Regions from separate parts of the Homo sapiens genome. Here region 1 is linked to region 2. Evidence: fine-mapped expression QTL. Tissue or cell type: whole blood. Region 2 holds a variant in brackets; the other region holds the start of a gene. All regions are shown on one strand. Distances are from middle to middle. Region 1 holds the start of SEMA4D (semaphorin 4D). Region 2 holds the start of LOC105376137 (a long non-coding RNA gene).

Region 1 (10,797 bases), 31 kb after region 2:
ACTCTATTAGAAAGTCCAAACACGAGGTCAAAATTGTGCCCAGAAAGAGCACATCCAGTGAAGAATAAACTTCACTGACCTGCCCTGTTTCCTCCTCCATAACATGAGGACAGCATGGCCTGTCCTGCATATTTCTATGAGAAACTCAAGCTCTGGTGTTGTCAAGGACAGAACTCAGCCTGCAGGCAGCATCTGCCCCTCAGGAATGCTCCACCAGGACTTTTGCTATGTTTGATATTCAGTGTAGAGAGCAGGGTGGGGGATGGCTCTCCCAAGCCAGAGCAGGGGCCCTACTGAAAGTTGAACACACCATCATTTTTAGTTACAGACACTTCTCTTTACTTCTTTGCATTTTAAAATTTTCTATTGAGGATAAATTCTAAACATTAAAGTGCAGAGCTCAGTGAATTTTTTTTTTTTTTTTTTTTTTTTTTTTGAGACGGAGTCTCGCTCTGTCGCCCAGGCTAGAGTGCAGTGGCGGGATCTCGGCTCACTGCAAGCTCCGCCTCCCAGGTTCACGCCATTCTCCTGCCTCAGCCTCCCAAGTAGCTGGGACTACAGGCGCCCGCCACTACGCCCGGCTAATTTTTTGTATTTTTAGTAGAGACGGGGTTTCACCGTTTTAGCCAGGATGGTCTCGATCTCCTGACCTCGTGATCCGCCCGCCTCGGCCTCCCAAAGTGCTGGGATTACAGGCGTGAGCCACCGCGCCCGGCCAGTGAATTTTGACATATGTATACACTCAGGTAACCACCACCCAGGTCCAGATACTCAACACTTTCAGCCTCCCACTGTGCCTTCTCTAATTCAGAACCTACCTAAGAGTAACTGCTATTCTGACATTGATCCCTTTGTTATGTTTGCTGTTGTAGAACTTCTTATGGACAGAATTATACGGTAGCGGCTCTTTTGTGTATGTCTGACTTCTTTCAGAATTATGTCTAAGAGACTCACCTTTTTGCTACGTGGAGTTCTTTCCCTTTTTCATTACTTTGTAGTATTCCATAGGGTGACTTTACCACCAGTTATTTGTCTTTCTACTACTGATAGACACTCGGGTTGTTTCTAGTTTGGAGTCACAACAAATGAAGTTATCATGAGCATTCTTATATATGTGTTTTGGTAAACATATGCACTTATTTTTGTGCATTCTATCCAGAAGAGGAATTGCTGGGTTATAGAGCATTTGAGTATTTAGCTTCAGTAGTATTGCTCTGTATGTTCCAAAGTGGCCATACTATTTTACACTCCCAGCGAAGATGTATGAGAATTCTAGCTGCTCCACATCCTTGCCAACACTTGCTATTTTCAATTTTAGACATTCTAGTAGGTGAGCAATTTTCCACTTAAATGTATAGTAGCACTAATGACACTACAGTGAGCATGGCACTCACCTAGTTGTCCATGAATATCTGTTTTTCCTTTCCTTAATATATTAATTACAGACTTTTAGCTGGTTACATAGTCACTCAACTAGCAGCTACATTTCCAACTCCCCCTTGCAGCTACATGTGGGCCCAGGACTAAGTTCTGGTCAATGGTATGTGACAGAAGTGATGTGTGCTACTTCCTGGTATTGCACTGAAATCTATTGATCACACTCGTCCTGGCCTATGAAATCTATTGATCATACTCTTCCTCTTTCCAGCTAGATGGACGGTAACATCCAAATGGGAGACAGCAAAGCTCCCCACCAGTCCTGGTCCACATGTCTACCTCTGATAATGTTATATAAGAAATGAATAAACTTCTGTCTCAGTCAAACCACTGGATTTTTATCATAGCAGGGAATCGTGCATCCAAATAAACACTCTGTGATTGCTCATTTGCCCTCTGACTTGAACACACCTGGGCACATGTTGTTTCTATTTGCTTAGCACTCATCTGTGCATTAGGGAACTGCTCTCCCACAGCCCTGCAGTTCTGTGAGATTGTGAACTGTACCTGCTGCAAGCATATGCATGTGGCCCAGGTCTGACCGGTTGTGGTTTCTCATCCTTCTCTGGAATTTTGGGTAAATGGGATTGGCATGAGAGCCAACAGAGCCAATCAAAGTTCTTCCATGAGATTTGCAATATAAAGAGAAAGAGTCTTTGTCATCATTTTAGAGTTTGGTGGCCAGGAGCCTTGTGACAGGAGAGGATAAAACCAACACCCAAACAGAGCTAGGGCCAATCAGAGAGAAAGAGGGAAAGAGTCAGAGAGCCGAGAGAAGAGGGATATTTAATAATGGCATCCAAGTCCCTGGATCTAACTGTACCTGGAGCACCTTTAGACGCAAGTGAGCCAATAGTATGAGCTGAATTTCTGTCATTTACCACCAAGAGTCCTGTCTCCTTCATTAATGCTATAAACATGTTTGATGGCAACTTTATAAAGCACTATGCAAGATGCTGGAGATACAAGGTCCCTTTCCTTTAAAATAGTAATTCTTAGTCTGATCAACTTTGAAGGGTCCATCCAGATGGAAGGATGATAAGAAAAGAATTACATTTTTTTCCCCACTAACCTCTAACTGAAAGGAAGCATTTCCTTCGGGTGTACATGCAGGCAACAAACACAGCCACATCAGCAGTATGTAAGGACTTCTCAGCAGAAATCACAGCGATTCTCACATCACATCATGCTCGTTACAGACTTTAAAATATCGGCTGACTTATCATGACTTGGAAACTACAGCTATCAGATCTGCCGCCAGAGCATATTATTAAAAAAGAAGCAAGTAGATCACATTTTAAAGTATTTTGGTAGCTGGATTTCAGTATAATTCATTTCCTTTTGAATCCTGTATTTGACTTTATGCATTTAAACACATTACTCTGAAAAGAGTTCTGTAGACCTCACCACTCTGTGAAGTTCAAAATGTAGACCAGAGAAGAAAGAAAACTATCAACAAACAATTATAATGGAAGCTGGTGCAGGCACCAAGGAAGTGACGTGTAAGGTGACATTCGAGCTGAGGAGCAGGGTGGGGGATATTAGCTCTGCCCAGGGTGCATGGGTTTGTGTTGGAGGAAATGATGCCAGGGCAGAGCCTTGACACATAAGTGGGTGTCTGCCAGCCAGCCAGGGATGCGAAGAGGTCCATGGTCTGGCAGTTGGTGACAGCAGTCACCTTAAAGGTCAGAAAGGCATTGCTGGGGCAAGTTCACTTGCTGGGGCAAGTCTAATCCAGCAGACACCAGCACTGATTAGATCAATGGTCAGATGGGGCCACATCAGCATCCTGTACACTCCCCAGTATGACGAAGGATGGCTTGGTAAACCATTCTGCATGTTCAGTGATGTGGGAAGTGCTGCCATGAGTGTGTGCACCAAAAATGGATTACACCCCTTCACCAGATTTATCTAGCACTTAGTGGTTTGACAGTTGAACGCTGTGCAGGAGCACAGAGCAATGATAACATCTCAGCACGGCCTTCATTTCTATGCTTCTGCTGGTGTGACCCCACGTTTCCAAGTGTGGCTTTAACAAAAAGAGCTCTGTGGGTCCTGTGGGGGTCTCAGTGGCAGTAAGGACATATGAGGGTGCTAGAGGTGCCTGGGGATCTCAGAGCCTTCAAAATCCCTTTCGGCTTCCTTCATTGACATGTTCTAACAATCAGGGTGCCTGACAGAGACCGGTGTGGACTCTCTATTTTGGAGAGGCTGGCCAGGAAGGCCACACTCTTACCAGCCTTTTCTGGGGTGCGGGGAGGAACAGAGCTAGGAGTAGGAGTCACAGCATGGTCTTGGCAGCCACTGCATGGTAACAGTGGAGGTGTGGCTCACCCACGTCTCTGCAGAGTGTGGTCACATTCAAAGGACATCTCCCCGGACTTTTCTAGAAGCTGCTGGCAGGTCCCAGAGCCAACCTTCCCACAGTCCCTCAGAGGACCCCGTTTCTCCACTTGCTGTGCTGACTCTCTCTCTAAGCTTAGCCTGGACACTCTGCATGCCACTACAGGTGAGAGGCGGCAGGCCGACTCTTTCTGAAGACACCTCCTCCACTGCGTAAGGCTCCACACTGGGCGATCTGGAAACGGCTCCCAGCCCACTACGTGCCTGTTCCCTCCTGCACTGCAAAGTGGAAGCAGAGGATCCTCTCTCCTCATATCCACCTGGGCCGTGTTGGAAGCTGAGTATTATTTGTGCTGCCATACTTGAGTTTTTTTCTCATATGGGACTTAACTATTATCAATCCAGTTACTATGCTCATATGCATATAGATGGTGTCAACATTCTGGCTGGGAAATGCAGAGAAACTTTGCAAAGCATGGTCTCAGTATCCAAACACTTGGCATTTCTGGGGAAACTAGGAAATAGATTGGTTAATATGATCTTTGATATGCTTGAACTTAATATTGGAGGGGAAAGTAAGGGGGTGAGAGGTAAGGCAAGATTGGAGTTCATTTAGCTACTTTTATTTTTATTTTTTGAGACTGAGTTTTGCTCTGTCGCCCAAGCTGGAGTGCAGTGGTATATGATCTTGGCTCACTGCAACCTCCGCCTCCCGGGTTCAAGTGATTCTCCTGCCTCAGCCTCCTGAGTAGCTGGGATTACAGGTTTGTGCCACCATGCCCACCTAATTTTTGTATTTTTAGTAGAGACGGGGTTTCACCATGTTGGCAAGGCTGGTCTCGAACTCCTGACCTCAGGTGATCCGCCTGCCTCAGCCTCCCAAAGTGTTGGGATTACAGGCGTGAGCCACTGCACCCAGCCTGCTACTTTTATATCTATGTTTGAAATGTCCCACGACAGAGTGTGAAACAAGAATAAAAAGGCAAGCTTGGTCACTTTGGGAGACATAGGCAATCATGCTGAGAGAAGGGAACAGGGAAGAAGGTCAGAGAGGAGGGAAGAGGAAGACCTAATAATGGCATCCAAGTCCCGGTTCTAATGGTACTTGGGGCATCTTTGGATGCAAGTGAGCCAATAGTATGGGCTGAAGTTCTATCACTTACAACTAAGAGTCCTGTCTCCTTCATGAATGCAATAAACATGTTTGGGGGCAATTTTATATAAGCACGGTGCAAAGAAGCCCTTGTGTTCGCAGCCTGGGCATTGCGGAAAGCTTTTTGGAGTTTTTACTGAATTCTCTCATGTTCTTCTGTATGCATTAGGAAACAGGCTAGAGAGGACAGTATTCTGGAAGGTCATGATGCCAGAAGTGTGGGCCCCAGGACAGCCATGCAAAGTCTCTTCTTTGCCCTGGGCTGCCCTCTATTAGATTCTGAGCATGTGGGTCTAAAAGCCAGGAGAGAATTCAGCAGTTGTTGAGAAGCATACCCCTCTGCTGCTGGTCCCCTCCCTGCAGTGTGTTCCCAAGGTGGCCCCAGGCCTGTCTAGACGCTGGCTGTGAAGGGCACGCTCCTGTAGGGGCAGCCGGCTCTTCCACAGTGAGGTCTGTCAGAAAGCGCCCACGATAGGCAGGAATCCACTTTCTCATCTAATTTCCACCCATCTGTCCTCATTCTGCCCTTCATAACACCACAGAGTAATCCTTCTTCCCGGGACAGTTTTGCACATATTGGGGTTCTTCTGTCTTGTGCTCCACACATTGATTTTCTAGGCTGAAGACTCCCGGTGGGTCAACTCCCCTCCCACGGGATACTGCTGGCTGCCTTAGACACCAAGCAAGGGCATGGTATTCTAGATGTGTCTGACTAGTGAGGAATAAAAGAGAGTCCCCCCACCCCACCCCAATCAGTGCAATGCTTGCATGTGTAGATCCTAAGCGTGCATCCCTCCTTGGGTATAGAATGCTGTTAAACCAGTTCTGTCCTAATCCGTTCCCATTATGTTTCAATCCAAATGGGATGTGGAACATGGATTCATGGACCCCTACAATTGGAAAAGAGCTTGGAAAAGACTTCTCTAGTTTTTCCTGTAATAGTCACCAGCACTGAACCCGAGCACACGGTGCAGTGGGCTTTACCTGCCATTCTCTCTCCGTGCTCCCCAAACCCTCCAGGACGACCACACTGTCCTCATGTTGCAGGGTACAGAGGTTTGCTGAGGCCTGAGGTTATTTGGAAACTGCAGAGCTGTGAGTCAAGGGAGTCTATCAGATTCCAGGTCTGGATTCTTCAGCAAGAGGGTGGTGGCTGCCATGCCGTAGAGGGAGGAGGGGGTGCGTGCTCCACCCCACCCTGCTTGACACCAGCTTTGCCATCTTAGCCTTTGCTGGGCCGAAGCCCTATTCTCAGAGCTCCGGCACTGAACCACAGAAACCACAGGAGGCCCTAGAACGGAACTCTGAGACTGTTGGGCCTTTAACTCTGTGACTGTTGGGCCTGGGACTGGCTTCATTTGTAAACTCTGGCTCTCAGAGCCAGTGCTCAGCAGGAAAACAGCCTCAGGGCCCCTGCCCCTCAACAGCAGTCTGTAGTCCAGGGAGGTATCACCTGGCCTGGAGAGGGGCTCCCCAACTCCTCACATTTAGGGGAAATCTTAGCTGGTTCCGTAAGAAACTGTGTCCCCTTCTCAGGACTGTGTTCCTCAATAGGCCTCCCAGCCTGGCCAGTCACTGTGCGAGCCCTGTCACCTCTCCTGGGGGCAGAGGGAAGAGGTCTGGATGGAGCAGCACCATCTCTGAGGGCCCCCAGATCCCCAAACCCATGGGCTAGTCACAAACAAGTCTCACCAGCAGCCTCACAGGAGGACCATTTGCCATACAGAGTGGAAAATGATGAACGTTTGGCAAAAGGCTAGCACGGGGGTTCAGGGAAACCAAGACTCCAGGTGGTGCCAGCCCCTCCCCTGGGGAATGGGAGCAGCCTGGTGTGAAATATTCTTGCCCAAAGTCAGCAGCCAAGTGTTCTGGGTGCCACGTGCCTCACGCACACTGCAGGTCAGGTTCTCAGAAGAGCTGGCCCAGGGTCTGGGGGTGAAAAAAAACTGGGGGATTTGGGGGAGGCCTGGAAAGGGTGGGGTTCATCCAGGACCCCAGAAGGGGCAAGCTTGTCTATTGAGAGCTGGTGAGGAAGAGGGTGACAGGGCACCTCTTGGTCCTGGGAACGGGTGCTTGACTCAGCAGAGACCAACCCAGGGCTGAGGGACAACCCTCTGGGCCTGGCGGGGAGGCAAGAGAGATGGGAGGTGAGGAGGAAGGAGTGGGGAGCAAAAGTGGGGAGAAGGGGAGAGAGGTGGAAGAGTGTTGCGAAGGTGAAGAAAGAGGAGGAAAAAGAGAAGGGAGGAAAAGAAAGGTTGGGGGAGGGAAAGGAGGGAGGTGAGCAGGGGCGAGGAGGAGGGAGGAGGAAGGAGGAAGAAAGGGGCGGGGCCATAGGAGGGAAGAGAAGAAGGGGGAGAGGAAGGGGAAGGGAAAGGGGAGGAGGCGGGAAGGGAGGGGGAGCGGAGGAGGGGCCTGCGCGCCCGCCCCGCGCACTCCGTCCCCGCGCCGGCCTCAGCGCTCTCGCGCGCCGCAGCATCCCAGCCGCCGCTGCCGCCGCCGGGCCTCCCCGCCACCCCCTCCCCGGCCCGGCCGCCTCCCGCCGCTGCCGCCGCCGCCGCCGCCGCCATTCCTGGCGCCCGAACTCGCCCGGCCGGGAGCCGCCGCGGGCAGGACGCGCGCTGCAGGTAAGCGGCCGGGCTGGCGCGGGAGGGAGGGCGCGCGGGGCCGGGCAGGTGCGCTGGGGGCGGCCTGGACCCTCCGCGGAGCCCCCACTCCACACCCCTAGGCTCCTCACCGGACCCTCGGGGCCCTCCCCGAACCCCTGCAGGAGCCTCCTTCTGGGATCCCCGGACCCCTGGACTCCTTCCTGGATCCCCCCGGGGCCCCTCCTGGGACGCCTCCCAGAGACACCTACCCGGACCCCTCCGACCCCCTGGACCTCTCTGCTATCCCTCCCCGGCCTTCTCCCCTTCCCGGTTGCCTCCCCAGTCCCTGCGCGCAGGTGGCTCCTCTGGGCGCGGGGGAGCGGGGGCGCGCTGCATACCCGGGCCAGGGAGGGGGCGGTGCGCTCGGCCAGGCCCCGTCGCGCCCCGGCCCGCCCAGTCCGGCCCCGCCAGGTCAGGCCCCACTCCGGCCAGCCGGGCTCTGGCCGGGCCCCCGCGGGCTTCTATTTTGGTCGCGGAGGCCGCGGACCCTGTGCACTGGACCCGGCGCCGCGCACTCAGACAGGTGGGGCAGGTTGGGCCGCAGTGGTCAGGTCGCCGCCTTGGCAGTGAGTGCTGCAGGCCTCGGTTTCCTTTCGGGTTTTGGTTGCATTATTCTAGAACAGCCCAGGAGAACCACAAGCCTTAGCTTGGGCTGCACCTGTTGCAGCCGCCTAGTGAGCTGCAAGGGGCTGGCTCTACTGGGGTTATGCCAGTAAAAACGTGTAAAGGAGAGTTGAACTCGTGGTTGTCCTCTATTTTCTGGCTTAGTATTTTGGGGGGTAGGTGGGAGAGTGGGTGAATGGGAGTCTGTAAGTGGGCAGTTTGCGTCAAATGAGGCCTGGTGTCGAGGGCTGGGTCCTGCTTTCCGGAAGGTTTTCCACATGAAGTTGCTTTGCTTTTGTTTTGAAAACCTCACTCTGTGTTGAGCACATCCCAGGCTCGTGGGTGGCCAGGCCCCCGAAGGCCAAGCTGGACGTGGGGCCTGGGGCCAAGCATCTCACCCTGCTGTTCTGAGTCTTTTCAAATCCACCAGGCGCCACGGAACGGAAGTTTCCTTTCCTGGGGGTGACGTGACACCAGTGGCCTGTCACCTCATATGTGTCCTAGGCCTGGGGCCTGCCTGCTGGCTGCCCAGGCGAGGTTATTTGGGAATGTTTACTGTGTCCCAGAAACAGGCAGCTCTGGCCAGTGCAGGGGCAGGATTCTGGTAGAGATGATAATGCCCTGATTGTCATTTTGACAGTTGGTGTCTGCGTATATCATGTCTTGGTAGTCGTCAGCCAGAAGAAGAAAGCAGGCGGGCTCAGCATACCCACCAGGGAGGCTGGGGTGGGAAGATGAGGGATGCACTGGCCTGTTTCTGTGAGCAAAGACTGCCCTCCCATAAGGCCAGACCTTCAGACTGAGAAGAGTGTACGTGGTACACTCAGCGAGTCAAACAAAGAAATAGAAACACATCACTGGTGCCAGGAGCAGCCCTGGGGTCCCAGGAGGGTGGGCCGCTTAGGAGTTGGTAGACGGTGGAACTCAGTGGCTGTATTTCAGAGTGCAGACAGGCAAAAGGCCACCGTGGGGATGCAGAGCCCCAGCTGCCATGCCAGCCCAAGGTCTTGCAGCACAGCACAAGGGAGGGACTCCATGGGAGGGGGCCCACCTCCTGAGAAGCACACCCAGAGTCTGTTGAAAATGCAGCCTTGCACAGACCCCCCTGAGTGCCTGGGGTCCTGGGCTGAGGTTTAGAGTGCAAGACCAGCGACCATGTTGCATTTGATATCCAGTGGGTCTGGGGCCAGGGAGATGTCCTTGGTGACATCATCCACTTGTGGACAGTCCTCTCCATGTGGACCGCTGGAGGCAGATGTTACCTAGAGCCGCTTTCCCCACACCAAGCGGGTGTGTCTAGGCCAAAGCTTGGGAGTGCACGCTAATGGCCAGCTTTGACTGAGGAGGGAGGGAACGTCCGCTGCTGACAGCACAACAGCAAAATCAATAATGCATTGCAAAGATCAATGGTTTTCTCTATCTTCTGTGCTTCTGCATTGAGGCTGTTCAGGCTTCTGCCTCTCTTGGTTCCATTTCTGTTGGGGAGGGAGGGATGGGCGGGTCCAGGAGGGTGGTTGCAGATTCTCCTCCTGACCCCTGGAGCCAGAGCTCCAGGGTTGGAGCTAGGACCCATGGGGATGAAACTTGCCACGTGAAAATATAGAAATAAACGTGCCGTCGGCTGATTGTCGAGCCTAGTTGCTGAGAGAAAGGCTGCTGCCTGCTGTTCCCAACCAGGGCAGTTATTTCTTCTTTGAACTTGGACAATTCCAGGAAGAAGACTAGAAGGTGAGAAGGGAGGTGGCAGAGGCAGCTGGGGTGGGTCCTCTCTTCCCTGGGCCAGGGTCCGCCCTGGGCTTGGCAGGTGCAGTTCCTCAGCCCTGCCCATTGCATCCCCATCCCCATCACCATTGCCGTCCAGGGTCCAGGGCTGCTGGAGGAGATAGCTGCTGATTCAGTCAGGTGGAGAGGGTGTGCCAGGGCCTTCCCTGGAAGCTGGGTGGTGTTTTAGGTGCACTAGTTAAGGCGATCCTTGGGATAAGCAAATTGCTTTGCTGCTTGTGGGTCACTTTTCAGCTTCTGTGACCCTCCCTGAGCGAATTTGCCTTTAGCTGGGGGTGTCACAGCAGGGGCCCCAGCTTTCTACTGCCTTGCTGCTTCCCCTGGGGCATCAGCAGCCGCCTTCCCACAGCACCTGTGCAAACCTCAGTGGGGGGCAGGCAGGGTCCTGTTATTTGGTCCAGAAGTTTCAGATGCTGCCCATGAAAGCAATGACTGCATCCCTGCCCTGGATCACATCTAAGTGGCACCCCAAGATTTCTGGCTTCGATCAAAGCCTGATCCAGGCTGTCACTTGGATCAGCATTTGATCCAAGCATCACTCCTTTGAAAACTAGGCTATTGATGTGTCTCATGGACATTTGTGGAGTGAATGATGATTTTAAGGAATTCCTTAATCACAGCATCGTGGTTATGTTAGAATAACTTTCACCCTTTAGCAATAGATACTGAGTGTTGGTAGATGAAATGATGTTTGGGATCTGCCTCAGATTAGTGTGGGGTGGGGAAGCAGAGGGGATGAGAAGGGGCGAGATGGTCTGAGTGGACAGTTTGGGGTCTGGATGAGAGTACCTGGGTTCTTTGTTCTGTTCTGCCTACTTGCATGCACTTTGAAAA
Region 2 (16,409 bases):
TACACACATGCACAAACTCAGACACACAGCACATGCAGGCACATACACATGCCCATGTGCACACACGCTGGCTGCACCATGCATGTACTCTAAGGGGCAACGTGGTGGTGAGGTATTGCAGTGACCACGGCAGAGCAAAGAGGAGGGAGAGAAACTGGTGACCCAGGTCCTGAGCAGGGCAGGGTGCTGTGTGGCACTGCCCTTCCCTCTAAGACATCATCCTTTCTGGTTCACCGAGGGGACAATGGAGGCCCCTCAAAGTGACCTCAGGCCTTAGCTCAACCCCAACAGCTAAGAGGACTGGAGACCAACACAGCACTTTCTCATCTTTCTTCCCCTGCACGCTGTCTAACCAGCCTCTGTCCCCACGACACCAGCTCCTGCATGCCAATGCCCACCCCTGTGGTCCACCAGAGCAAGGAGAGGCAGCCAGGGAAGGAAGGTGGTAGGTGACAAGGACAGGCAGCTGCCTGGCGTTGGCAGGCAAGACGGGGACAGGAGCCACCCTGCCCCACCCACCTGCCTTTCATTACCAGGTAAACATCTGCCTCACTTGACACCCCACTTCAACCTCAGCAGCTGTGAGGCACCAAGAACCTTAGAAAGCCAGGGCCCTGCCAACAAAAAGGGCTTGTCATTACAGAGCCCGTCCCTCTGCTGGTGACCTGCAGACACCGGGTGGTCCCTGCACCTTCCCCGCTCGCTCAGGGAAGCCCTCGCCCCCATGCCCATCACCCCACTGCACACACTGAGGCTCAGGCTCCCCAAAAGGCATGCGAGGGAGCACCCCAGTTGGTGGAACGGAGCCTAAAAGAGTATCCACCCGGTCACTCAGCCATCTCTGACCACAGCTCCCCACCACAGGATCCCATCCCCTAAGGCTTTCCCTGCCACCAGGGCCCTGCTCTTCTTGGGGCCTCACACTCACCCTTTGGAGTGTAGAAGGGACCAGCAAGCCTAAGTGGGAGAGTCTGCATAGAGGGAGCCCCGCTGGACATAGGCCCACATATGCATCTGGACATAGGCCCACCTATGCATCTGGACAGAGGTCCATGTGTGCATCTGGACACAGGCCTATGTACGCACCTGGACATAGGCCCACATATGTGTCTGGACACAGGCCCCACGTATGCACCTGAACACAGGCCCATGTATGCACCTAGACATAGGCCCATGCATGCATCTGGGCCCTCCTTGCGGCAAATATAGCATCATTGCCATTTAAGGATCCAAGAACTGGAAATGACAATTGCTCCAGAATTTGCCAAGAGACTGGAAAGGAGATCAAGGCTCAGCTCTGCCTGCAAAGCCCATTACCCCAGGGATGAGGAAGGCAGTGCTGCAGGCTTGCCGGTGGGTCTCAGGACAGTTTTCCCTTATTTTATAGGTCAATCTACTCCTCAGGAGGCTACTGCCAGACACTCAGTGTTACATCAATGCTGTGTAATAATACTAGCCAGGAGAGACCAGACTCACTGTGCCTGCAGGCTGGGCCCAACAAACAGGCTCACAGGGCCGTGGAGCAGGGATTGCTTTAAAAGGAGCAGTGTGTACAGGGAGTGGGGATGCTGAGGGTGTTTTTGCACACCTACTACACTCAGGAAAGTGTCTTGTGGGATGAGACAGGAAAATCTAAGACCTCTGCCTCCGAAGAGCTTCACGTCTAGGAGAAGGCAAGGCCCTCAGGCACAAGATAACAGCAGCAACCAACCTGGGCCCAAACTGGCAGCTCCTGGTTACTTGAGGAGTCCCAGCTCCCTTGGGCTCGCAATGGCTGTAGGCGAGGGGCTGCTCCTGTCAGGTCCCTGCAGCTACCTGCACAAGGTCCTGTGCATCTTGGTGCTTGATGTTGGCTGAATTTAGCAAGATAGTCTCATTTGGTTCCAAATGGCCCATCCCTGTTAATGACCACTCCCAGAGGGCTCTGAGACGCCACTACTAACTATGAAATTCATAGTTCAAGGACAAAAACAGGTGTCCATGTGGAACGCTCTGAGCACGAGGGTTGAGAGCCAGTTTCCATCTTGGTCATGAGCCACTGCAATGTTAGGAACCAAGTAAAAAGGTATGCCCAAGTTATTTTTCCTGCCATAGATTATAAATGACATCAGGGCATGGAAACACATTGTGTGCTTTCAGAAGAGCAGGAATTGCATTTTCTTCCCCCTCAACATGATAAATCCCATAATAAAGAACAGCCGGCCCTGAGTAACAGCCTGGAGGAATCTGGTTGCCAGGCATAACCCAACGACATGTGTCTTTCTGGTCTTGATCAAATGTCACTTATTTACAACAAAACTACCCGGGCTTCTCCTGGGCTCTGAAGACAGGAAGCCAAGGGAGCGCCTGGATTATGGCTCAGCACTCTGCAAAGGCCTGTCCTGCCCTTGACATAGCAGCAACTCTAAAGAGCTTTCTCCTGGTTGGGCACCTCACTGGGAACAGTCCCCAGACGCCCTTCCAGCAGGCACACTGAGCCAAAGCAAAGGCCCAGCGGCCATCAGCATCACCTTCCTGCATCAAAGGTCTCGCTGGTCACTTGCTGATGTTCTCTACGGAGACTCCATGAGCCTTCTGAAGCCCATATGGGGAGGCACAGCCTGCAGGGCACTCGGCTTCCAGATTAATTGGAAATCAGGCGCAGAAATGATCACAGAACTGAGATGAGCTCTCCCCACTGTCCTGGGTCAGGGTGGAAAGGCTGCCAGGCTGTACCCTGCCTTCATGGTGGAGGGGCAGTGAAATCAACACAACCCAACCAGAAGAGGAGGCCCGCCACCTACACGCTGGCTGCCTGGGGACAGACAGCTCAAGCCAGTGAGCCTCAGCCTACACACTGATAAGAACAGTTACCAGTTTTCAGAGAACTGTTGAACACATCAGATAAGGTAACTAATAAGGTCCTGGACCATGCATAAGTCAATATACAGTAGACATTTCCCAAACGTCTTTTCTTATATTGCTTTCCTTATTTAAAACATGCATATACACATATGTATATATGTGTGGTTTTACATATATATATATTCATTGTAAGAAAAAAAAAGTAAAAGGCAAACACAGAGAAGCAAAAACAAAAGAGAAAGAAGAGAGAGGAAAAAAAGGAGACCACTTTGTGTTCTCACCTCCCACATCTAACCGTTTCTAGCAAGTTTGTCCACTTCCTTCCTGCCTTTTCTCTGCACATAGACACACCTACATATGTGAGGGGTGATGTGTGCTCCAACTTCCATATTTTCATGTAATATTATGCCATGGATAGCTTTGGATGCCATTACGTCTTACTCTCCAGTGTTACGTTAAATGCCTGTATTTTAAATCCATTTGCTACGGATGCACCCAAGCAACTTAGCTCACACCAGTGCCGGGATCCCCTTTTCTTTTCCTGTTTGTTCACTCTGAGACCCATCTTTCAAAATCACCTTCTATCTGATGAAATCACACTGTGCACTCAGAACTTTACTCAGATGATTGAGTAGTTTGTTTTATTTTGCTTGTGATTTTTTAATTCCTTCTTCTGAAATTGTAACACCAAATGGGATAAATAATAATGTCCTGGAAATTGTATATGGATTCCTCCACAACTGAGAGCACTCTCCTTCCTGCACGCTCGTCAGGCCTGCTTCATGGGGTCCCAAGGATATCTCCCAGACCTGCTATCTCCCACCCTCTCCCCCTTCCTCTTGGCCCCACTTGGGACCTCAGACCTCCTCAGGACCCTGCACTTGTCTTTGGGTTCTTTAAAGTCAATCACTTTATGACATCCTCAGCCCCTGGAGGTGGTGCCCTCCTTCAAGGACTTTCCTTCCTGGTGGCTGAAGGACAATTGGTGCCTCTCCTCACCTGCTGGCCATTTGTGACCCCCCTGGCAGGTGTGGGTGTCCATAGAGCTGAGACAACCAGGGGTCCCTGGGGGCTCAGAGGGTGTGAAGCAGGGCAAGGTCTCGCTGCCATGGGGCACCATGAGCACATCCTATACCTGAGGGCAAGGTGAGGCAAGGCCAGAATGCCAGCGCAGCCCCAAGTGTGCCAGGTGGAACTTGACAGCTGTCAACAGAACAACAGTTGTGCGGAAACTGGGACATTTATCACATTTCCACTTGCCTGACAAGGTAAAGACTGCAATTTTTCATCTAAAAAGGAAATTAGAACTCATTGCCTTGATTAAATATTCTGCACTTATTTACACCCACAACCCCAATAAAACTCAGACACACACAGGGTCCTACACACACACACACACAGCCTTATACACTTGTACACACACAGCCCTAAACACACACCAAACCTACAGCTCTACACACATGCACACACACACAGCCCTACACACACACAGGCCTATACACATACACACACACAGAGTTCTATACACACACACACCACCCTACACACATACACACACAGTCCTACACACACACGCAGCCCTACACACACACGCCTACACACACACACAGAGCCCTACACACATACACACACACAGCCCTACACACATACACACACACAGCCCTACACACACAGCCCTACACACACACACACAGCCCTACACACGCACACACACAGCCCTACACATACACACACAGCCCTACACACATACACACAGCCCTACATACATGTACTCACAGTCTCACACACAGCTTTCCATGCGCAGGTATGTGTGTACACCCTAGAACTGTGTGAGCAGGAGTGTGGTGCGCAAAAGGCAATGGTTTTTCCATCTCCCATGTCCTTTTTAGTGCTGTCCATTTCAGCTGTCATAAATTATGACCTGAGCTAACGCATGCAAAGTTATTAGGTTACCATGTGTTCATATATGTCCTGTGTGAGCCGGAGCCATCCAGCCCCCACAACACAGACACCCCCACACCCTCATCTGCAGGCAGGACTGGCTCTCCGCCCCCTGCTGTCAGCATCTCAGCTCCTTCCGCAGACTCTGGTGCAAGCAAGCAGCTTAATTATTTACAACAGGAGATTCCCGAAAGAGCCATCAATCCTTCCATGGAAAACCTCCACAGACGGCTGGCCCCTGGGAGGCTGCGCATCCCTCACCTCAACTCTTCACCTGGCTGCCCCATCAGCCCAGACAGTGACCCCGTCCTCGCTAAGCCCCACCTCAAATCAGACATAAGGCCCTCATGGACTCTGCCCTTGCTGCCCCCACCCCACATACTCTGGGCCCCCCTTCCCACATGAGCAGGAAACGCAGCTTTTAGTATCCTGGCAGTGGAGGGTGGAGTGGGGGCAAGATCTGGGGTCTGGCATTCGACCCCTGGATGGAAATCATGAGTGATTCTGATTATTCCTCTATGAGTTTCTTATTTTCTAACTGACAAATATTATTTTTAAAATTATTAAACTACAATGGATAAACATTACTTTATTAATCATAAGACCATCACCTGATGAAAATTAGGCAAGAAAAGGAAATTGAGTTCTGAAAACCATTCGAGAAGAGAGCTAAAAAACAGAGACCAATCTAGCTATCACATCAAAAATAGGACCCAGTTAACTGGTAGAAGGCATTTCTGACAAGCAGCAATGAACGCACAGTGCACAGGGGGTCACATGGCAGCTGGTAAGAATCTCACTGGACTGGGTCACTCCCAAGGCCCACGCTGTCCTCCAAGGCAATTTACATTCCTCTCCATCATCAGCCATGTGGATTTTTCATTAAAACAATGGCTGCTGTTCCTGGATGACCTGTTACAAACCATAATCAATCAACCTCCTCCCTAATGTCACAAACTGCCACCGCATTACACACTCCAGGAGAGATGCCAGGTTTGACTGGCACAGCTCCGGGCAAAGCTATCTGCTTGGCCCAGGAGAATCCTCTCCAGCCCTGCTTGACCCTCTCCTCAAGCCCATCCTTCCCAGCACAGAGCCACAGACACTGAATCAGAGGGACATCAGCCTGCAGCATGCTGTCCCAGACTCCGTGTCTTGCCAACCACCTGAAATATCACCACGATTTTGACTGTCACCATGGCAACTGGAAAGTTCCAGGGAAGTTGGCCCGAAGGCATCTCCCAGGATGCACCCCCAGCCTCCTGATGTGCAGCGCTGTCTCCTATGTCTGTTCAGGCTGAGGACTTGGTGCAGGGCTGAGGATGCCTATGCTGGAGTCCACCAGCCTCGTGGGAAGCAGCGTGCCCTCCTGCTGTGAAGCTGTGGGTGAGTTTCCCTAGGGGTGAAGACTAGATAATGTCCCTATGTCAGGAGTGAGGAGCATGCCTGAGAGACTACAAGAAAGGCTTTGTATTAGTTGGGGTTCTGGAGGGACAGAATCAATAGGATATATGTATATATATATATGGGAGTTTATTAGGGAGAATTGGCTCACACAGTTACAAAGGCCAAGTCCCACGCTGGGCCATCTGCAGGCTGGGTTATGAAAAAAGTCAGTCCAAGTCTGAAGGGCTCAAAACCAGGGAAGCCAACAGTGCAGCCCCCAGTCCTAGGTCAAAGGTCTGAGAGCAACCAGGAGGCTGCTGATGCAAATCCCAGAGTCCAAAGGCCAAAGAACCTGGAGTCTGATGTCCAAGGACAGGAAGAGAAAAAGCCTCCTGCTCAAGAAGAGGGAGAGAGAGAGAGAGAGAGAGGGAGAGTGCTGGATATCCATCCTCCTTCCACCTGCCTTGTCCACCTGTTCACCCCCAGCTGACAGAAGGGCGCCCGTCCACATTGAGAGGGGGTCTTCCTCTCAGTCCTCTGACTCACAGACACACCCAGAAACTGCTTCACCAGCCATCCAGGCATCCCTCAATCCAGTCAAATTGACCCCTTTTAACCATCACAGCCTTCATGCCATCATTGTGAACTGCTGGGCCTGGAGCCATAGTCCGCCCAACACCAGGGTGACTCCATCCCTATGCAGTATGGTGAGGGACAGGGCTACCTGGAAGTGATAAAGCAGCTCTCATCAAACAGGAACTATTGACTCACTGGCACTCCCAGAGCCTTTCAAGCCAGAGAGCCGACGGTGGCAATGACAGAGTGTGGACTGCACCCAGCACTTATGAAGGGGCTGTTGTGTGCTGAACAGAAACCTTGGTCAGGAATTCCAATTATAAATGGCAACCTTTGTCACTAGCATCATTACAAGCCATCCTTGTTCCACTGGAGTTCTC[G/C]TTGCACATGGAGCTGGGCAGCTGCATTCCCCTGCACAACACAAGAGGCAGGTGGGCCAAGACCCCAGCCACTCAGCTGGAAGATTCTCTCCCATCTTGCATATTGCCACATGGATAGCTCAGAGAGGTGGCATTGTCCTTCCCATTCTGCAGACTACAAAACTAAGTCTCAGAGAGCTCAGGCAGCTCTCAGGTCACTAGATAGCAGAACTCAGATTCAAAGCCCTTGTCATTAGTGTTGTTGAATAAAATACGGACAGCCTAGTTAAATTTGCATTTCAGATAAACAGCAAATAAACTTTAGTATAACTATATCCCCAATATTGCATAGGAGAATATTTTTGTTGGCTAAGCCTGGCAACCCTGTTGCAACTGATGTGTGCTCTCATCACACGGAAAGCAGGTGGCCACTCATAGGCTAGGATGCCCATGCTGGTTGCTGGCTGGGGCTGAGCCATGGAGATGTGGAGGCCCCAAATCCTGGCCATTTTCAGGCCATCTGCACCACCGTGGAAAATCTGCCGGCTCTGGGAGAGATGGTGCTTAGCAGAGAGGCTGTGAGCCTGCCACATGAATGGCCACCCCTTCTGGGCACCAGGTCCTGCTGTACTCCAAGTGGGGACCATGGAAGCAGTTCACGATCCCTGCAAGGACTCCAGGCCCCAGAGGGATGCAGGCTGACTCTCACCACTCAGGAACAGTGCTGTTCTCATAGCTAAATTGGAGGATGATTCTTCTTCTGACTCAAGTCTGGTCCAAGCATGTTCACACACCTAAGCCCACCATGTCCAGCAGAAAGCATGACCCCAGAGATAAATGGGATTGAACCCCTGGCTCTGTGTGCACCCCTTTTTGTCTTTCAGGCCCTGACAGTAGAAGCTTCCTGGACCCATGAGGGAAGGATGGCACCCAGCTAGGAGCAGAGATTCACCCAGGGGCCCCCAGAGTTGCTTTTCTTGTTTCATGGATTCCTGGTTCAGTTCTATTCCTGGCAGGATAAAGTGTTTTTTCCTTTGGTGTTTTTTTTTTTTTTTTTTTGAGATGGAGTCTTGCTCAGTCACCCAGGCTGGAGTGCAATGGTGCGATCTCAGCTCACTGCAACCTCTGCTCCTGGGTTCAAGCCATTCTCCTGTCTTAGCCTCCTGAGTAGCTGGGATTACAGGCACCTGCCATCAAGCCCAGCTAATTTTTTGTATTTTTTTAGAGACGGGGTTTCATCATGTTTAGGAGGTTGGTCAGAGTGGTGGGAGAAACTATAGGGAAAGGAGCAGGCCTTCTGAAAGGTCAGAAGGCTCTGCATAGTTTCGGGGGAGAATAGCTGAAGACAGCTGTTCTCTAACCCTGAGGCAGAGGGCAAGGAGTAGGTACAAGGGATTGTAGGGAAATTTATCTTAAACAGGCTTGTTTACTTATGTTGGCCAGGAGCTGACCTGTGATCATCCGCCATAAGTTCCATAAGTTCCCTGAAAGGGGAACAATAAATGTTAATTACCCACAGATTGTGTATTGCTTCAGGCTTTTAGCATTGTGCCTGCACTCAATAAAAGCAAGCAGCTCCAGCTTCTCGAGGATGCTGTACTTTGGCCACTAGAGCCTGGAAGTCCCCTAGCTGCTCTTCCACTGCATACCTGTGTCTGAGTACCCCGTTCATCCGTCGATTGGCCAGGGTCTGTGGGACAGACCCGGCAAGCATATTGGCTATGCTGGTCTTGAACTCCTGACCTCAGGTGATCTGCCTGCCTCAGCCTCCCAAAGTGCTGGGATTACAGGCATGAGCCACTGTGCCCGGCCCAGATAAAGTCTTTAAGAGCAGTTATTGGAAGTTTTTCATTGTGTTGCCTGCTAATGAGAAAACTTCCATTCCACAAAGACCTCCAAGCATAGAGATTAGTAGACAAAAAGCTAACTCTCCAGGACAATCTGTTCGGCACAGAAAAGTGCATAGAGCTGGCTTTCAGGGCCAGTGATACAGGAATGGCCTCACCGGCTGCTTCTCAAGCACTATGTGACTGTAGCTGCCCTCAACCTGTGCTCTGGAGGAGGTGATAAAGGGCAGTTGTCTCTGTGGACCAGCAAGAAATTAGACAGTTATCCACCTGGTCATTCAACCTAACACCTGAGACAGAATAGTCACCCAAACAGGGCATCTCATTTTCTGAACTACATCACTGTTAATTGTAAAAAGTCAATATACATATATCTATGCAAATTTATTATATACACATAACTACTGTATGTATTATACACATTACAAAACATACACCAAAACTTTTAAAAGATAAGATAAACCTGAAAGACTATTTCCAAATGTTCTGCTAAAAATGCTAGCTTAACTATTTACAATAGCCAAGAGATGAAATCAACCTGTGTCCATCAAGGACACATAGGATAGAGAAAACATGGTGCATATCCACAATGGGATGCTATTCAGTCATGAAAAAAGAATGAGATCCTGTCATTTGCAGCAACATGGATGAGCCTGGAGGATGTTATATAAAGCAAAATAAGCCAGGCACAGAAAGGGAAATACTGCATGATCTCACTTATATGTGGGAGTTAAAGAGCTCATAGAAGTGGAGAGTAGAATTGTGGTTACCAGAGGACAGGAAGGCTAGCGGGGAGAGGAGGATGGGGAGATGTTGGTTAACGGGTACAAAGATACAGTTAAAAGGAAGAATAAGCTCTGGTGTCTGCTGCACAGTAGGGTAACTGTAGCTAACAATAAGTTCTTGTATATCTCCAAATAGCTAGAAGAGAGGCATTGTGAATGTTCCCACCACAAAGAAGTAATGAAGTTGTAATGGTTATGCTAATTACCCTGATTTGATCATTACACAATATATACATGTAATGAAACATCACATTGTATCCCATAAATACATACAACTATTATGTGTCAATTAAAATTAAAAAATAAGTTTTTTTTAAAAATGCTGGCTTAATACTGCATTAGCTAACACTCCATGAGCAGCATACCCAGGGCATGGTTTGTGTTGACAATGCTGGTGTCAGTCTCTCTTTCAAACAGTTTCTTGCTCTTGTCATGTGCGTGGGGCTCCAGTGAGATCTACAGTGTCGGCTCTGCCATTGTCTCATTGCCAGAGAAATGATTAATAGAATCTTTATTCTGCCATCTCTTGGCAGGAGTATTATTAAGCTATCTGTCCCTTACATGATGGGGAGAGTAGTCACAGGGCTTGGGAAAAACAGGGGCTGCCGGAGGGCAGGTGCACACTCAGTATCAGCACAGGGCAGGGTTCCTGGTTTTTAGAGAGAAAATGAAAATGCTGACATTTTCTCCTGTGCACCACCCCCAAACCCGGGAATCACGAACCCTTCACTTGGGAGTCCTTGGACACAGCAGGTAGCAGGTACCTGAATCTCCAAAGCCTAGAGGATGACCCACTCAGATATGAGTGCAGTCTAAAGGAGCAGCCTCTTTCTCCTTCCACATGATACCTGAGAGTGAGACCCACCATCCCCATCACAAATACACCATTGGTTTCTGCTCCAGCTCCCTGGAGATGAGGGAAGGATCAATTCCCGAATCACTCAGCAGTCTGTGGGCTTGCTGTCCTGGTTATCTCTGTGCTGGGCTCCTGATTCTGCAATACCATCTCTGGCCTTCACTGAGCAGCCCTGAGGCTCACTCTGTCACCGTGTCCACAGATGTCCACCACAGCCTTGCTGACCTCTGCAACCCTCCTTGTGACTCCTCTCCCTGTGTGACTTCACTCGGTATACAAAAGCCTGCATCACCGCTCCCGTTAAGAGCAGCTGAGCCTGTTCTTCACTTTGTTTATTTTGCTTAAACCTTTCCGTTTCCATGCCCCACCCTGAGATTCAGATCAAGGTGTTTTTCTATTGTGACTTCCCTATGGTAGCCAGCCTCTCCCTCTTCATGTTCTGTGTAGTCCTGTCCCACATTGAATAGGGCTGACCAGTGTCATCAACAGACATCACAAACATGATTGTGCCTGACTTCCAAGGCTAGCTCATAAAACATTGAGTCTTCTGCCTTGCTCTCTCTGGGATTCCTCACTCTGGAGGAAGCCAGTTGCCATGCCATAAGGACGCTCAAGCAGCCCGGCAGAGAGGTCTGCATGCCTCCCACACACAAGCAGCACCAACTGCCCAGCTGTATGAGGAACTGCTTGGGAGGTGGAACCTCCAGCCCCATTCATACCTTTAGATGAGACAGCGGCCCCAACCGCTCAGCTAATTGCTTTCAAATTCCTGACCCACAGCAACTGCGAGAGATCAGAAATGCTTATTGTTTATGATTCTAAGTTTTGGAATAGTTTGTTATGCAGACACATTGAAGAATTCTGACTACCCAATTAAGAGAATGAAAAGTGCGTATGGCAACATACATCCATAACTGCACACACTTATGCACAGATATTTGAATCAGATTATACTAAACCGTATATACTATTGAAGGTATACTAGCTGCTGCTGTAATAACCAAATCCTAGCCTCCACAGCTAAACAAAATAAAAGTTTACCTCTTGTGCGTATCTCCATCCATGTGGGCGCTCCTGTTTGGGTGATTCACCTCCCAGCAGGGATTCCTGGACCCACTCACTGGGCAGCTCCACATCTTCAATGGTGACTCTCTTCAATTCAATGGGCAGATGGCAAAAGAGACTGTGGGAGTCACATCCACTTCTTAATCCTCTGGACCAGAAGTGACACTCACCCCATCCACTCATGTTCCATTGGTGAGAACCAGACACTTGGTCCTCCCTAGATCACAGTCCATGGGTGCTGAGGAATGGGGTCCTGGCTGGGAGCCACTCCCAGCAATAAGTCAATGCTGTAGAATCTTTTGTAGTTAGCTACCCATCCCTTCTATGTTCTGATTCATTTGCCTTTTATTAATTAAAAATATATTCTGGATATATTATGGATAGCCTTTAAGATGGTCACCTCCCCCATGATCCCTGCCTCCTAATATGCACTCCGTTGCATAATATCTTCCCCTGGAACACAGACTTGCTTCTAACCCATAGAAAGTGACAAAGATGATGGGATGTACATGATTATGCTCCATAAGATGATCACATCAGTCTTGTTAGGAGACACACTCCCTAGCTAGCTTGGAGGAAGCAAGTGGCCACATAAAGAGGGCCCCTGTGACAAAGAGTTGAGGGCAGCCTCTGGCCAACAGCCAGCAGGAAATAAGGCCCTCAGTCCCACAGCACACAAGGAACTGAATGTTGCTGACAACTATGTGAGTGAGGAAGCAGGTCCTTCCTCATTCGAGCCTCAAATGTGACTGCAGCCCCAGCCCACACCTTGGTTGTGGAGGACCAGCTAAGCTGTACCTGGACTCCTGACCCACAGAAACCGTGAGACAATAAATGCTGGTTGTTTCAAGTTGCTTAGCTTACAGTTATATTGTTAGCCTTTGATTACTAATTTAGGCATCTTCCCATATCTGGGCATACTTACCTACTTCTCTTTAAAGCTACATGTATCCCAGTGTGGCTGGGCCATGCTGTATTTAACTTGGGACATGCAGATGGCCTTCTTTATTTTCTACCATTGTATACAGCATGCAGGCACATTCGTGGATCTTGCACTCCTGTAAATATAGAAATGACTCATAAATGTTCTCAGCTAATGGGACTGCACCTGTAAAATTGTGACACACCTATTGCCAAATTGTCCCCCAAAAGGAATATCATGGCGATAGGTTGAGTTTTAACCAGAAAAAAATGCTGAGCAGAACATTCCAGTTGGAGGAGAGTGACTGGGCCCCGACAGATGCCTGGAAAGACCCAGGGCCCCTCTGGGAGAAGGAACCACTCAGGCTGCCTCAGAGAGAGAGCAAAGAGGAGGGAAAGGGCCTAAATGGTTTCACTCAGGAGCCCTTGAAAACAGGGTGAGAAGTTGGAAAATAAAAGTGGGGGCTGTGACGGACTGGTGAATGATTTCCTCAAAGTTGGAAAATTAAGAGTTGATGCCTTTGCCCCTCACTCTCACCAGGTGCAGATCCCCGTCCCTGGAGCTGGTAATGAGGGTAGAAGCTCTCCACTGGACCTTCTGATTTGTTTTCCTCTTATGCTCTCTCTGGGGGAATCATCTGGGTATAGGAAAATGAAATTATTGGGTCAAAAATCATATAAACTTTGAGTAGCACATCCATACAAATATATTCAAGGAGTTTCGTGGAAGGCTTTGGAATCTCAAAATTCCAGTTTTTCTTCTTGGTTAAATCCTCCCACGAAGTCAGCCAGTCCTGGGTCGTGGACTTTGAAACTCAGGGCAAACCAGCAGCATTGGAAGCAGGCTCTCTGCTCCTGCCCTTGTGCTTCCTACCCCAGCTGGGTGAGGCGCTGCCTGGGGCTCCGGGCCTGGCTGGTCCTCTTCGCCGTGCGCCCCGCTTTGCCCTCCCCACTGCACAGCCGGAGGACCTGCTGTCTTGCCATCTCTTCCATGTCCTCTCCTCTTCCTCATGATTCGTGAAGTCATGAACACTGAGAAATGGAAGAAATGGTTAAATCTTTGGAACCAACTACTTCCGCTTTTGTCTTTGTCTCCTCAGAAATTACAGATAACAATTCATAAGGCAAATGTGTCATTAAAGGAAATGGCCACAGGAACCCAAACCGCTGTGAACTCAAGTCACCAGTCACACTCACACTGTCTGGGGCTTAATGGCCCCACTTTCCACAGGGACGTTCACACCTAAGCTTTGAAGTCACCTCTCCACCTGGACAAATGGGAAGGCGCCTGTTTGTCCACCACCCTGTGCTGTGGAAGGCGTGTTCAGAGCAGGCCTTCTGAAGAGAGTCATTTTTCAAAAACACAAGCGACAGTTTGCGCCTCCAGCAGCGCTCCTCCTCCAGTCTTCACACCTGCATCCCCTATCTTCTCCACTTTCCGGTGTCTCTCATGGCTTTCTCCTTCCATCTGTCCTTAGCCTTCTTGTCAGTCTCCCTACAGCAGCGAAACCCGGGCTCAGAGGGAAGGCACTGAATTTTAGGAGGCTCCGGCGTTTTCCCCCCAAGGCAAAAAGACAGCCTAGCTTCCTGGATGCATCCCAGCCTTTTGCTGATGTTAAGGGGATTGCTTGAGTCTTCAATATCTTAAAACTTCAGTAGCTGGAGTGGAGATTTTGGGGACACGAGTGGAAAAGCCAAACACACAGCAGCAGCGCATGTCACACATGCAGTCAGAGTTGGATGGTCAGACCCTGAATCCCACTCAAATGAGGCTGTCTTTCTCTAGTGACTCCAGGTAACCATGGAGACATCAGCAACCCAATCAGCCTGAGCTCTTCCATTCCCAGAATGAATCTGACCCTGCCAGAGTCTCCATCAGACCAGGCGGAGCTCATCCAGGCTTTCTCTCAGGGGGCTGCAGCCGAGACTGAGGCCGGGCAGGGCCATCTCAGTGACCTCTTCACTCACAGGTCCAGCCCCAGGCGGTGGGGACAGGACAGCTGAGCCAGCTCCCACTCTCTCTCTCCTATATCTCTCTCCCTCTCTCCTACATCTCTCTCCCTCTGTGTGTCTCTCTTTTCTCTTTGTGTGTGTCTGTCTCTGTCTTTCTCTTTTTCTATCTCTTTCTGTCTCTTTCTGCCTCACTCTGTATCTCTCTGTCTCTTACTCTCACTCTTTCCTTTCTCTGTGTCTCTATCTCTGTTTCTCTCTCTCTCCCCTCTCTCTTCTCTCTCTCCAACTCTGTCTCTCCTTTCTCTCTGTGTGTATCTCTGTTTCCCTGTCTCTCTTCTCTCTCCTCCTCTCTGTCTCTCTCTTCTCCCTCTCTCTGTCTCTCTCTCTCTGGGTCTGTCTGTCTCTCTCTCCTCTGTCTGTCTGTCTGTCTCTTTCTCTCTGGTCTTTCCATGTGGTTTCTCCACTTGGAGTCCTCTGAATTCTGACTTTTTATATGGAGGCTCCCAGAGCAAGTGTTCCAAGGGCATTGGACACAGAAGTGTGGCCTCTTTTATCTGAGCCTCAGAACTCACACAAAGGTCCATCTGGGTTCAAGGACAGGAACACAGGCTGCACTTCTTGGCCAGAGGACTATTAAAGAATTTGCAAACATGTTTTAGAAGCACCACGCTGCCCACCCTCCCAGCGAGCCTGAGGAGTAGTGGGGGTCCCCAGAGAGGAGGTATCTTTCTGAGACCCAAGATGTTGACTGTCCAAAAGCCTCCCTACCCTTTGCTCTTGGCTGACACGGGAAGACCCTCAGCCCAGGATGCAGCCCAGAAGGAAAGGGCAGAATAAGCTGCTTCCCCAAATCCTTCCTTCTAGCACACCTCCCTCTGCAACCCACAGAGCCCAATGGGCCGCTTTCAACCTCCTCCTATCTGTCTGTCTGGGACCTATGTGGAGGTGACACCCTCCAGCTGTCCTTCCTGTCTCTGCTGACAGATGAGATCATCAGTGAAAGGAATGAAAACATGGGCTTAGGTTGGTTGAAAAGGAATAAATATGTCTGTGTAAAGTATCACTTAGGCTGATTTTTGTAAAAATATTTCCATAAAAGTGATTTTGGCAACAAATATGAGAACGCCCATCTCAGAGGGGCTTCAATAATTGTGACACTTACGGATGCCACAGAAGTGGCCTGGACATGGAAAGTCAGAGCTGGCGCCATTGCTCAATGATGTCCTCCAAGCCAGGCATGGCCTGCCCTTCAGTTTTCACTCTCAGCACAAGAGCTTTAGGGCCATACACTGCTTACCTCCTGGTTACAAAATAGCTATGAGAGCTCCAGGCATCACGTGAGCATCCCAAACCAGAAGGAAGCCATAGGGAAAAAGACCTGGAGGCTTCAGCTGACTTCTGTTTACCTCTCCACGTGCAGAATAGGGTTCTGTGCCACCCCATAACAATCGGTAGCAAAGGGAAGGGGGTTGCTACAGCTAAATAGCTTAAACCAAAGGGACTGCAGGACGCCTAGTTTCTCTGAGATCAAGGGCTCTTTGCCTGCAACTTTAATGCAAAATTGGATTCTTTTGGCAGGAAAGGAAATGAGGAAATTCCATTAAATAGGAAAAGGACAGTGTCTTCCATGAGTATAATCAGGGGATTCCAGATGTTAGACTGGCTTCCTATTTCAGGCAAGGTCTGTGTTTGGAATTCTAAATAAAGTCAAGTCACAATTATCTCTGGAATTAGACAAAGAAAGAGCATGAATAAATGACCAGTAAAGCTAATTGTACCCCAACATTCCAACCCCTTATCCCATTATTCCATTGGCATCCCCATCTCTTATTATATATTTTTTTGAAATCTAATAACAAAGAAAAATGATCTGATG

Evidence for each region. PIP is the estimated chance that this variant, and not a neighbour inherited with it, causes the effect.
Region 1: it holds the start of SEMA4D, and the variant in region 2 is fine-mapped to the expression of SEMA4D in whole blood (INTERVAL, PIP 0.96).

Annotation. Positions count from the first base shown.
Region 1 is chr9:89,494,679-89,505,475 of GRCh38, reverse strand. SEMA4D (semaphorin 4D) reads left to right here and starts at 7,363. Exons shown (of 16, transcript NM_001371194.2): 1 at 7,363-7,557. RefSeq lists silencers at 7,274-7,463, 7,894-8,043.
Region 2 is chr9:89,523,200-89,539,608 of GRCh38, reverse strand. It overlaps LOC105376137 (a long non-coding RNA gene), which reads right to left and starts at 15,512. Exons shown (of 3, transcript XR_930102.3): 1 at 13,119-15,512; 2 at 12,585-12,717; 3 at 8,147-11,777. RefSeq lists enhancers at 1-17, 385-554, 3,686-3,855, 7,186-7,355, 7,188-7,357 and 1 more and a cis regulatory region at 469. The variant G/C (reference allele first, on the strand shown) is at 7,128.